Linked DNA regions of Homo sapiens: region 1 is linked to region 2. A link means that fine-mapping ties the variant in region 2 to the expression of a gene that starts in the linked region. Tissue or cell type: lymphoblastoid cells. Region 2 holds a variant in brackets; the other region holds the start of a gene. All regions are shown on one strand. Distances are between the middles of the regions.

Region 1 (5,384 bases), 25 kb after region 2:
GTCTAAGGGCCACTATTGATAACAAATACCTTCTTTCTGTGTGCTTAGAGCACTCCAAGAGTCACTTCCATTTCTGTATAAGGCCTTTATTATGCAACTGTTGTTTGTCCACCTTCAATTCCATCCCATGTGCCTTCTATTTTTCAAGTATTCTTATAATGTCTGGCCCATGAGAGCACACCTTCATGTATTTCAATTCTGGGCATGTTCATGTATGCACAAGTGTGTGTGTATCTAAGTTTTCTGTAATTTTCAGAGATTTTTGGAAAAGGGGGGAGAAGTGGGAAAAGGACAGAACTTGTTGTCTGCCATCTCAGTACAATCTCCTTGCTAAATTTCCAATTACATATTAAACTCTTTTAATCCCAAACACAGACAACTGCTAGTATCATATGATCTAATTTGGAAATCTCTGCTTCTGAGATGATATTATATGATCTCAATTTAAGACTTGGTCCCCATACTAAACCTGACATCTGCATGACACATGTGAATAAATTTCATTCTTCATCCACAAAATTATCTTTCAGATTTTAATACTGGATCTCAAAAGTATTGAGAGTTCTATATTACAGAGATTCTTACAAATACAAAACAGCAATACATGCCAGGCACGGTGGCTCATGCCTGTAATCCCAACACTTCGGGAGGCTGAGGCAGGCAGATCACTTGAGGTCAGGAGTTTGAGACCAGCTTAGCCAACATGGTGAAACTCCGTCTCTACTACAAATGCAAAAATTAGCTGGGTGTGGTGGGTACACCTGTAGTCCCAGCTACTAGGGAGGCTGAGGCAGGAAAGTTGCTTGAACCTGGGAGGTGGAGGTTGCAGTGAGCCAAGATGGCGCCACTGCACTCCAGCCTGGGTGACAGGGCAAGACTCTCTCAAATAAGTTAATTAATTAATTAATTAAATCAATAAATAAAACAAGTTTAAAAAACAGCAATACAAATAATCTTTTTGCTTAACTATAACAAAAGAGAAAAAAATAACTTTTCTAAAAAAAAGTTGTGTTAAAATTCAAAAATAAGAAAAAGCAACTCAAAAAGATCCGGAAACATTACTTCCTTATCACTCATCTCTAAAATTACTTCAACCAACAGTCTTTTGCCAACGCTAATAAATTCAGAAATAATTTAACACTATTTGAGAGTTGCCATTTAAATTCCAAACTTTGAAATCTAAAATAGTCTCTGATCAGATGTACAATGGAAATTTTATAGAAAGATCATTACATGGTAAATTGGTTGCAAAAAGAAGAAATTTTATAGAAAGAAATACAATCCTGAAATAAAATAAACTAAAAATATTCCTAAGGATTAATTCTAAAGAGTTCAACAAAACAATTTTTAATATATTTTTAAAATATTTAATGCACATCTAACATGTCCCAGACACTGTTCTAGGCATGGGGATATTTCAATGAACAAAACAGACAAAACTCACTATTTTTGGAATTTACATTCTAGTATATACATATGATCATATAATCTGAATAATATGAACTTGGCCTTTTCCTATAGAAATTACTAATAAGGTAAATAAATGTTTTAAGACCAAACACATATCTCCCATAGCTGTCTATCACACAACAACATAAAAACATATTTGAAAATATTTATAACACAGAGAGACTTTTAGCTACTGACTTCAAAACATTAGAAAATAAAGATCTTGTAAGAGAATTCAAGTAAAGTCAAATGTCCTAAAACTTACCTGAGTTAAATGATTCACTTGTAAAGGGAGGTGTTGACCAGATTTTAGGTAAGTGTACTAGATTTTAGATAACTCTTAACAGATGTTAATTTATATACTAAAACTAAATATCCAAAATAATCCAGATGTCAGAACCGTGGACATAGGAAAATACTGGGTCTAGGAGGAGCAATATTTTGATCATCTACAGTCCCACTGTACAATATGGTAGCTACTCACGTCTGTGGTTAACTTTGAATTAATTACAATTTAAAAATTAAAAATTCAGGCCAGGCACAGCGACTCACAGCTGTAATCCCAGCACTTTAGGAGGCCAAGGCGGGAGGGTCACTTGAGGTCAGGAATTCGAGACCAGCCTGGACAACATGGTGAAACCCCATCTCTACTAAAAATAAAAATAAAATTAGCCGGGCGTGGTGGCGCGTGCCTGTCATCCCAGCTACTCAGGAGGCTGAAACAGAAGAATCACCTGAATCCTAGAGGCAGAGGTTGCAGTGAGCTGAGATCACACCACTGCACTCCAGCCTGAGCGACAGAGCGAAACACCGTCTCAAAAAAAAAAAAAAAAAAAAAAATCAGCTCCTCAGTCACGCTAGCCACATTTCAAGCGCACAATTGCCACATAAGGCCGGTGACTACCATGCTGGACAGTGCAGCTACGGTACATTTCCAATACCGAAGGAAAGTCCCATGGCCCGCGCTGCTGTGGGGAATCGGAAGAGGCACGCCATTCCCGGGAAGAACAAAAACCTCCTAGAGAGGCTTAAAAAATTTGCCATTAACACGGGGAAAAAAATCTTCTATTTCCATTCCTCCATCTTATTTTCTCACCTCCTAGACAATGTTTCTTTTTTTTATTCTTTCTCTCCCTATTTTCTCACATTTTTCCTGCCCTTTTTTCTTATTTTTCTCTCACTGCTTTTTCTAACAACAAACATGCAGTCCATCTTTAATGATTTGATGCATTTCTTTAGGGTTTTCAAAATTTCTCAATGTTAAAATGTAAGGAGCTGAATGAACATTATTTCTAATGTGTTTTTTTTTTTTTTAAAAAAGCCATATTTAGAGGAGACTGTTTTTTAAGGTATGTGACCTTAGGTGTGTTTCCCCCACCTGAGAACATTATTCTTCCATAGAAAGGGTTTCTCACCGTTGGAATCCGGGGTGAAAAAAAATTTGCAATTCTAGTTCCGGCCTCTGGGGTTTCCTTGCACCGGAGGCCGGGCTCAGTCCTCTGGGCCGCGAAGTGGGCGCGGAACCTCTCGGTCCGCCGAACTCCTACCGCCACCTAGCGGAAGGAAGGCGCAAGGGCTTCTTCGTCACTGACGGTTGCCAGGCAACGGAGGCACGGCCCGGCCCGCGTTAAGGAGGAGGGCGCAGACCGAAGGACACTGAAAGAGCTGTAACAACCCCACTTTCGATTGGTTGAAGAGCTCTCAGCCTTCTCATGAGCCAATGAGAAGAGGCACGCGGATGGCGTCAGACGCTATGCGACTCCTCCCACCCACGCTCTGGCAATGCGATTGGAGACCGCGGAGGCCTACGTCGGACCCGGAGGCCCTGAATGCCCCATGCGCACCCCACAGCTCGCGCTCCTGCAAGTGTTCTTTCTGGTGTTCCCCGATGGCGTCCGGCCTCAGCCCTCTTCCTCCCCATCAGGGGCAGTGCCCACGTCTTTGGAGCTGCAGCGAGGGACGGATGGCGGAACCCTCCAGTCCCCTTCAGAGGCGACTGCAACTCGCCCGGCCGTGCCTGGACTCCCTACAGTGGTCCCTACTCTCGTGACTCCCTCGGCCCCTGGGAATAGGACTGTGGACCTCTTCCCAGGTGAGGGAAAACGTTGTGGGGGTGGAAACTTACTTCTGAGATCTAAAATTCTGTGAGCAAAGTTGAGCTGCCACAAAGCAGGAGTGGGGCTGTCGGAAGAAGGAGGGTGAGCACCTGGGAGAGTTTGGGGATCTTCATCCCACTCACTCTGTGTCGTACTTTCATAGTCTTACCGATCTGTGTCTGTGACTTGACTCCTGGAGCCTGCGATATAAATTGCTGCTGCGACAGGGACTGCTATCTTCTCCATCCGAGGACAGTTTTCTCCTTCTGCCTTCCAGGCAGCGTAAGGTGAGCTTCGTTGCTCAGACTGAATCCTAAAGGGGTTTGGGGCCTACAACGGGTAACATTTGGATGTAAGAAGAGTTAGTCTTTGTGCCTCCCACCCGTACTTCCACTCCTAGGACATTCCCTTGGTTTTTCCTAGGAATTGCCTTTTCTGATTCTCTAGAGCAGGGCTGGCCAGTAGAATAAGACCTTCGTGTCGTCCTATAGGTGCCCAAGGAGTCCTCTTTGGCATCATCTGGCCGATATTGCTGGGACACTCTTTTTTGGACCTGCCCCGCCCCTTCTAAATATATCTTCTCCCTCCTCTTTCCTCACAGGTCTTCAAGCTGGGTTTGTGTAGACAACTCTGTTATCTTCAGGAGTAATTCCCCGTTTCCTTCAAGAGTTTTCATGGATTCTAATGGAATCAGGCAGTTTTGTGTCCATGTGAACAACTGTGAGTAGAAACATGTTGGTTGTTCTCATTTTCTAACACAGGAGTGTTATATTTTGTCTTCCCTGGCCCACATTGGAAGAAGAATTGTCTTGGGCCACACGTAAAATACACTAACGATAGCTGATGAGTTAAAAACAACAACAAAAAAAAAGCAAAAAAAATGTCAAATGTTTTAAGAAAGTTTACAAATTTGTGTTGTTGGGCTGCATTCATAAGCCGTCCTGGGCTGCATGCGGCCGGTGGGTTGCAGGTTGGACAAGCTTGGTCTAACATTTATTGAGAATTGGCTTTTATTCTGGCCTTTTTTCCATTTCTTTTTTTTAAACTTTTTTTTTTTTTGTCCTTTGAATCTCTACGCCTCTTTCTGCCTCTTCTCTCTTATTACGGAATACATTTGCATTTTTGTTTTTTTTTGAGACGGAGCCTCCACCTATCGCCAGGAGTGCAGTGCAGTGGCACGATCTCAGCTCACTGCAACCTCCACCTCCCGGATTAAAGTGATTCTCCTGCCTTAGCTTCCCGAGTAGCTGGGACTATGGGTGTGTGCCACCATGACCAGCTAATTTTTGTATTTTTAGTAGAGACGGGGTTTTGCAATGTTGGCCAGGATGGTCTTGATCTCTTGACCTCATGGGCCACCCACCTCGACCCCCAAAGTGCTGGGATTACAGGTGTGAGCCACCGCGCCTGGCCACATTTGCAACTTTTTATGTTCTGTTGGCTATGGATCAGAAAACTCATAAAGAACTTTAATTTCAATCATTTTAATCATTCCTCTTAACTCAGATAATCACAGATAGACTATATTCCCCACTTACTACAATCTCCATGAGGGTACTAACTGAATCCCCAGTGCCTAACACATAGTAAGCACCAAATAATGTTTGAATGAACATCTTTGACAAATGAGTCTATGCCAACCTTATTTTCATTTCATGAGGCAACAGTGTAGGAGGAGCATTAGATTAGGATCTCAGTCCTGCCATTTCCTTACCAGCTATACAGACTTGGGCAAATCCCTTAGCATTTCCAGGCTCGTTTCTTCAACTGTAAAGTGAGAAATAATATCATTGGCTTTGTATATGAAAGCGCTCTACAACTGTAGAGTACAATAAAGAT
Region 2 (5,384 bases):
AACTCCCACCTATGAGTGAGAATATGCAGTGTTTGGTTTTTTGTTCTTGCGATAGTTTACTGAGAATGATGATTTCCAATTTCATCCATGTCCCTACAAAGGACATGAACTCATCATTTTTTATGGCTGCATAGTATTCCATGGTGTATATGTGCCACATTTTCTTAATCCAGTCTATCATTGTTGGACATTTGGGTGGGTGCAGCACACCAGCATGGCACATGTATACATATGTAACTAACCTGCACATTGTGCACATGTACCCTAAAACTTAAAGTATAATAATAATAAATAAAAAATTAAAAAATTAAAAAAAAACAAAAAAACAATGAACTTGGGATAATAAAAAAAAAACCACAATGGGTATTCAGTAATTGATAGGGAGACTCTTGTGGAAGCAGAGTTAGGAGAATTGCCTAATAATTGGTTTGCTGAAATGTTCGAGCTGTTTTCACTCAGCCAAGTCTTAAAGCACTTATAGAATCAAAAAAATCTATCTCAATCCTGACTCAAAATGTTACCTACACCCTCTCTGACACAAATTTGCATAAGAACTGTTTTATTTATTGGAATGTATCTTGATGGGGCAACTGGGTTGTTATGAAATACTCAGGAACCCAGCCCAGCTCTACAACTCACCCCTGAGCACAAAGGCAATGTTGGGCATGCTGGTAAAGGACCACTAGAATACAGCAGCCTGGACCCTTTTCTTTGTGGTCAAGAAAGGCGGGAAAAGGGGTGCAGGACTGCTACTTGGTAAGCGTAACTAACCCGATAAGCAGAGGTCCATGGGTAGTTACGCACCCTGGAAAGCAATAAGCATTAGGACCATAGAAGACGCTCTAGCACTAATGCTCATCAGAGAATGACTAGGGGTGATGGCATCCCGGTTTTTTTTTTTTCAGATAGGAAACATTACCCCTAAGGCAAAAACGCCCCTAAGATGTATTCTGGAGAATTCGGCCCAGTCAGAGTGTATGTACCTTTTTCCCTGTCAGACTTAAAGCAAATTAAAATAGACCTAGGTAAATTCTCAAATAACCCTGATGGCTATATTGATGTTTTACAAGGGTTAGGACAATCCTTTAATCTGACATGGAGAAATATAATGTTACTGCTAAATCAGACACTAACCCCAAATGAGAGAAGTGCCACCATAACTGCAGCCTGAGAGTTTGGCGATCTCTGGTATCTCAGTCAGGTCAATGATAGGATGACAACAGAGGAAAGAGAATGATTCCCCACAGGCCAGCAGGCAGTTCCCAGTGTAAACCCTCATTGGGATGCAGAATCAGAACATGGAGATTGGTGCCACAGACATTTGCTAACTTATGTGCTAGTAGGACTAGGGAAACCTAGGAGGAAGCCTATAAATTATTCAATGATGTCCACTATAACACAGGGAAAGGAAGAAAATCCTACTGCCTTTCTGGAGAGACTAAGGGAGGCACTGAGGAAGCATACCTCTCTGTCACCTGACTCTATTGAAGGCCAACTAGTCTTAAAGGATAAGTTTATCAGTCAGTCAGCTGCAGACATAAAAAAAAACACTTCAAAAGTCCGCCTTAGGCATGGAGCAAAACTTAAAAAACCCTATTGAACTTGGCAACCTCGGTTTTTTATAATAGAGATCAGGAGGAGCAGGTGGAACTGGACTAACGAGATAAGAAAAAGGCCACCGCTTTAGTCATGGCCCTCAGGCAAGCGGACTTTGGAGGCTCTGGAACACAGAAAGGCTGAGCAAATCGAATGCCTAATAGGGCTTGCTTCCAGTGTGGTCTACAAGGACACTTTAAAGCAGATTGTCCAAATAGAAATAAGCTGCCCCCTCGTCCATGCCCCTTATGTCAAGGGAATCACTGGAAGGCCCACTGCCCCAGGGGACGAAGGTCCTCTGAGTCAGAAGCCACTAACCAGATGATCCAGCAGCAGGAATGAGGGTGCCTGTGGCAAGCACCAGCCCATGCCATCACCCTCACAGAGCCCCGGGTATGTTTGACCATTGAGGGCCAGGAGGTTAACTGTCTCCTGGACACTGGCACGGCCTTCTCAGTCTTACTCTCTTGTCCCGGAAAACTGTCCTCCAGATCTGTCACTATCCGAGGGGTCCTAGGACAGCCAGTCACTAGATATTTCTCCCAACCACTAAGTTGTGACTGGGGAACATTACTCTTTCACATGCTTTTCTAATTATGCCTGAAAGCCCCACTCCCCTGTTAGGGAGAGACATTCTAGCAAAAGCAGCGGCCATTATACACCTGAACACAGGAAAAGAACACCCATTTGTTGCCCTCTGCTTGAGGAAGGAATTAATCCTGAAGTCTGGGCAACAGACGGACAATATGGACGAGCAAAGAATGCCTGTTCTGTTCAAGTTAAACTAAAGGATTCTGCCTCCTTTCCCTACCAAAGGCAGTACCCCCTTACACCCGAGGCCCAACAAGGACTCCAAAAGATTGTTAAGAAACTAAAAGCCCAAGGCCTAGTAAAACCATGCAATAGCCCCTGCAATACTCCAATTTTAGGAGTACAGAAACCCAATGGACAGTGGAGGTTAGGGCAAGATCTCAGGATTATCAGTGAGGCCATTGTCCCTCCATACCCAGCTGTACCTAACCCTTATACTCTGCTTTCCCAAATACCAGAGGAAGCAGAGTGGTTTACAGTCCTGGACCTTAAGGATGCCTTTTTCTGCATCCCTGTACATCCTGACTCTCAATTCTTGTTTGCCTTTGAAGATCCTTCGAACCCAATGTCTCAACTCACCTGGACTGTTTTACCCCAAGGGTTCAGGGATAGCCCCCATCTATTTGGCCAAGCATTAGCCCAAGACTTGAGTCAATTCTCATACCTGGACACTCTTGTCCTTTGG[T/C]ACGTGGATGATTTACTTTTAGCCGCCCGTTCAGAAACCTTGTGCCATCAAGCCACCCAAACGCTCTTAAATTTCCTCGCCACCTGTGGCTACAAGGTTTCCAAACCAAAGGCTCAGCTCTGCTCACAGCAGGTTAAATACGTAGGGCTAAAATTATCCAAAGGCACCAGGGCCTTCAGTAAGGAACGTATCCAGCCTATACTGGCTTATCCTCATCCCAAAACCCTAAAGCAACTACGAGGGTTCCTTGGCATAACACGCTTCTGCCAAATATGGATTCCCAGGTACGGCAAAATAGCCAGGCTATTATATACACTAATTAAGGAAACTCAGAAAGCCAATACCCATTTAGTAAGAAGGACACCTGAAGCAGAAGCGGCTTTCCAGGCCCTAAAGAAGGCCCTAACCGAAGCCCCAGTATTAAGCTTGCCAACGGAGCGAGACTTTTCTTTATATGTCACAGAAAAAAGAGGAATAGCTCTAGGAATCCTTACACAGGTCCGAGAGACCAGCTTGCAACCCATGGCTTACCTAAGTAAGGAAATTGATGTAGTGGCAAAAGGTTGGCCTCATTGTTTACGGGTAGTGGTGGCAGTAGCAGTCTTAGTATCTGAAGCAGTTAAAATAATACAGGGAAGAGATCTTACCGTGTGGACATCTCATGATGTGAACAGCATACTCACTGCTAAAGGAGACTTGTGGCTGTCAGGCAACCATTTGCTTAAATAACAGGCTCTATTACTTAAAGGGCCAGTGCTGCAACTGCACACTTGTGCAACTCTTAACTGAGCCACATTTCTTCCAAATAATAAAGAAAAGATAGAACATAACTGTCAACAGGTGATTGCTCAAACCTATGCCACTCGAGGGGACCTTCTAGAGGTTCCCTTAACTGATCCCAACCTCAACTTGTATACTAATGGAAGTTCCTTTGTAGAAAAAGGACTTCGAAAAGTGGGGTATGCAGTGGTCAGTAATAATGGAATACTTGAAAGTAATCCCCTCGCTCCAGGAACTAGTGCTCAGCTGGCAGAACTAATAGCCCTCACTCGGGCACTAGAATTAGAAGAAGGAAAAAGGGTAAATATATATACAGACTCTAAGTATGCTCACCTAGTTCTCCATGCCCACACAGCAATATGGAGAGAAAGGAAATTCCTAACTTCCGAGGGAACACCTATCAAACATCAGGAAGCCATTAGGAGATTATTCTTGGCTGTACAGAGAAACCTAAAGAGGTGGCAGTCTTACACTGCTGGGGTCACCAGAAAGGAAAGGAAAGGGAAATAGAAGGGAACCACCAAGAGGATATTGAAGCCAGAAGAGCTGCAAGGCAGGACCCCCTCCATTAGAAATGCTTATAGAAGGACCCCTAGTATGGGGTAATCCCCTCCAGGAAACCAAGCCCCAGTACTCAGCAGAAGACATAGAATGGGGAACCTCACAAGGACATAGTTTCCTCCCCTCAGGATGGCTAGCCACCGAAGAAGGAAAAATACTTTTGCCTGCAGCTAACCAGTGGAAATTACTTAAAACCCTTCACCCAAAACTTTCACTCTCACTGCACCTCCTCCATGCCACTGTACTACCAGTAGCTCCCCTTACCAAGAGCTTCCATGGAGAATGCAGCTTCCTGGAAATATTGATGCCCCATCATATAGGAGTTTTTCTAAAGGAAACCCCACTTTCACCGCCCACACCCATATATGCCCCTGCACTTCAGGCCATACATTTCAATCCCTGTATGTTTAAGCTCCTTGTTAAGTTTGCCTCTTCCAGAATCGAAGCTGTAAAATTACAAATCGTTCTTCAAATGGAGCCCCAGATGCTGTCCATGACTGAGATCTACTGCAGACCCCTGGACCGGCCTGCTAGCCCATGCTCTGATGTTAATGGCATTGAAGGCACCCCTCCTGAGGAAATCTCAACTGCACGACCCCTATCATGCCCCAATTCAGCAGGAAGCAGTTAAGAGCGGTTGTCGGCCAACCTCCCCAACAGCACTTGGGTTTTCCCGTTGAGAGGGGGTACTGAGAGACAGGACTAGCTGGATTTCCTAGGCCGACTAAGAATTCCTAAACCTAGCTGGGAAAGGTGACCACACCCACCTTTAAACACGGGGCTTGCAACTCAGCTCACACCTGACCAATCAGGTAGTAAAGAGGGCTCGCTAGAATACAAATTAGGCTAAAGCAGGAGGTAAAGAAAGAGTCAAATCATATATCACCTGAGAGCACAGGTGGAGGGACAATGATCAGGACATAAACCCAGGCATTTGAGCAGGGAGCGGCAACCCCCTTTGGGTCCCCTCCCATTTTATGGGAGCTCTGTTTTCACTCTATTAAATCTTGCAACTGCAAAAAAAAAAAAAAAAAAAAAACCCTGCAGATCCAAGAACCTCAATGAACAATGTGTGTAAGATAAACACAAAGAGAACCACATCTAGGTAGCTAGGCGAATTGCTGAAAACAAATTTAAAAGGTGAAGGATTTGGGATTGTAGCTTACTTAAA

What was found. PIP is the estimated chance that this variant, and not a neighbour inherited with it, causes the effect.
Region 1: it holds the start of TCTN3, and the variant in region 2 is fine-mapped to the expression of TCTN3 in lymphoblastoid cells (GTEx, PIP 0.93).

What each region holds. Positions count from the first base shown.
Region 1 is chr10:95,691,801-95,697,184 of GRCh38, reverse strand. TCTN3 (tectonic family member 3) reads left to right here and starts at 3,258. Exons shown (of 14, transcript NM_015631.6): 1 at 3,258-3,541; 2 at 3,709-3,832; 3 at 4,147-4,265. The coding sequence starts at 3,286. It also overlaps a transcript of ENTPD1 not described here. RefSeq lists enhancers at 2,298-2,799, 3,274-3,553.
Region 2 is chr10:95,717,206-95,722,589 of GRCh38, reverse strand. It overlaps a transcript of ENTPD1 not described here. Among named protein-coding and RNA genes, the nearest start is that of TCTN3, 26 kb to the right of the region's middle. The variant T/C (reference allele first, on the strand shown) is at 2,873.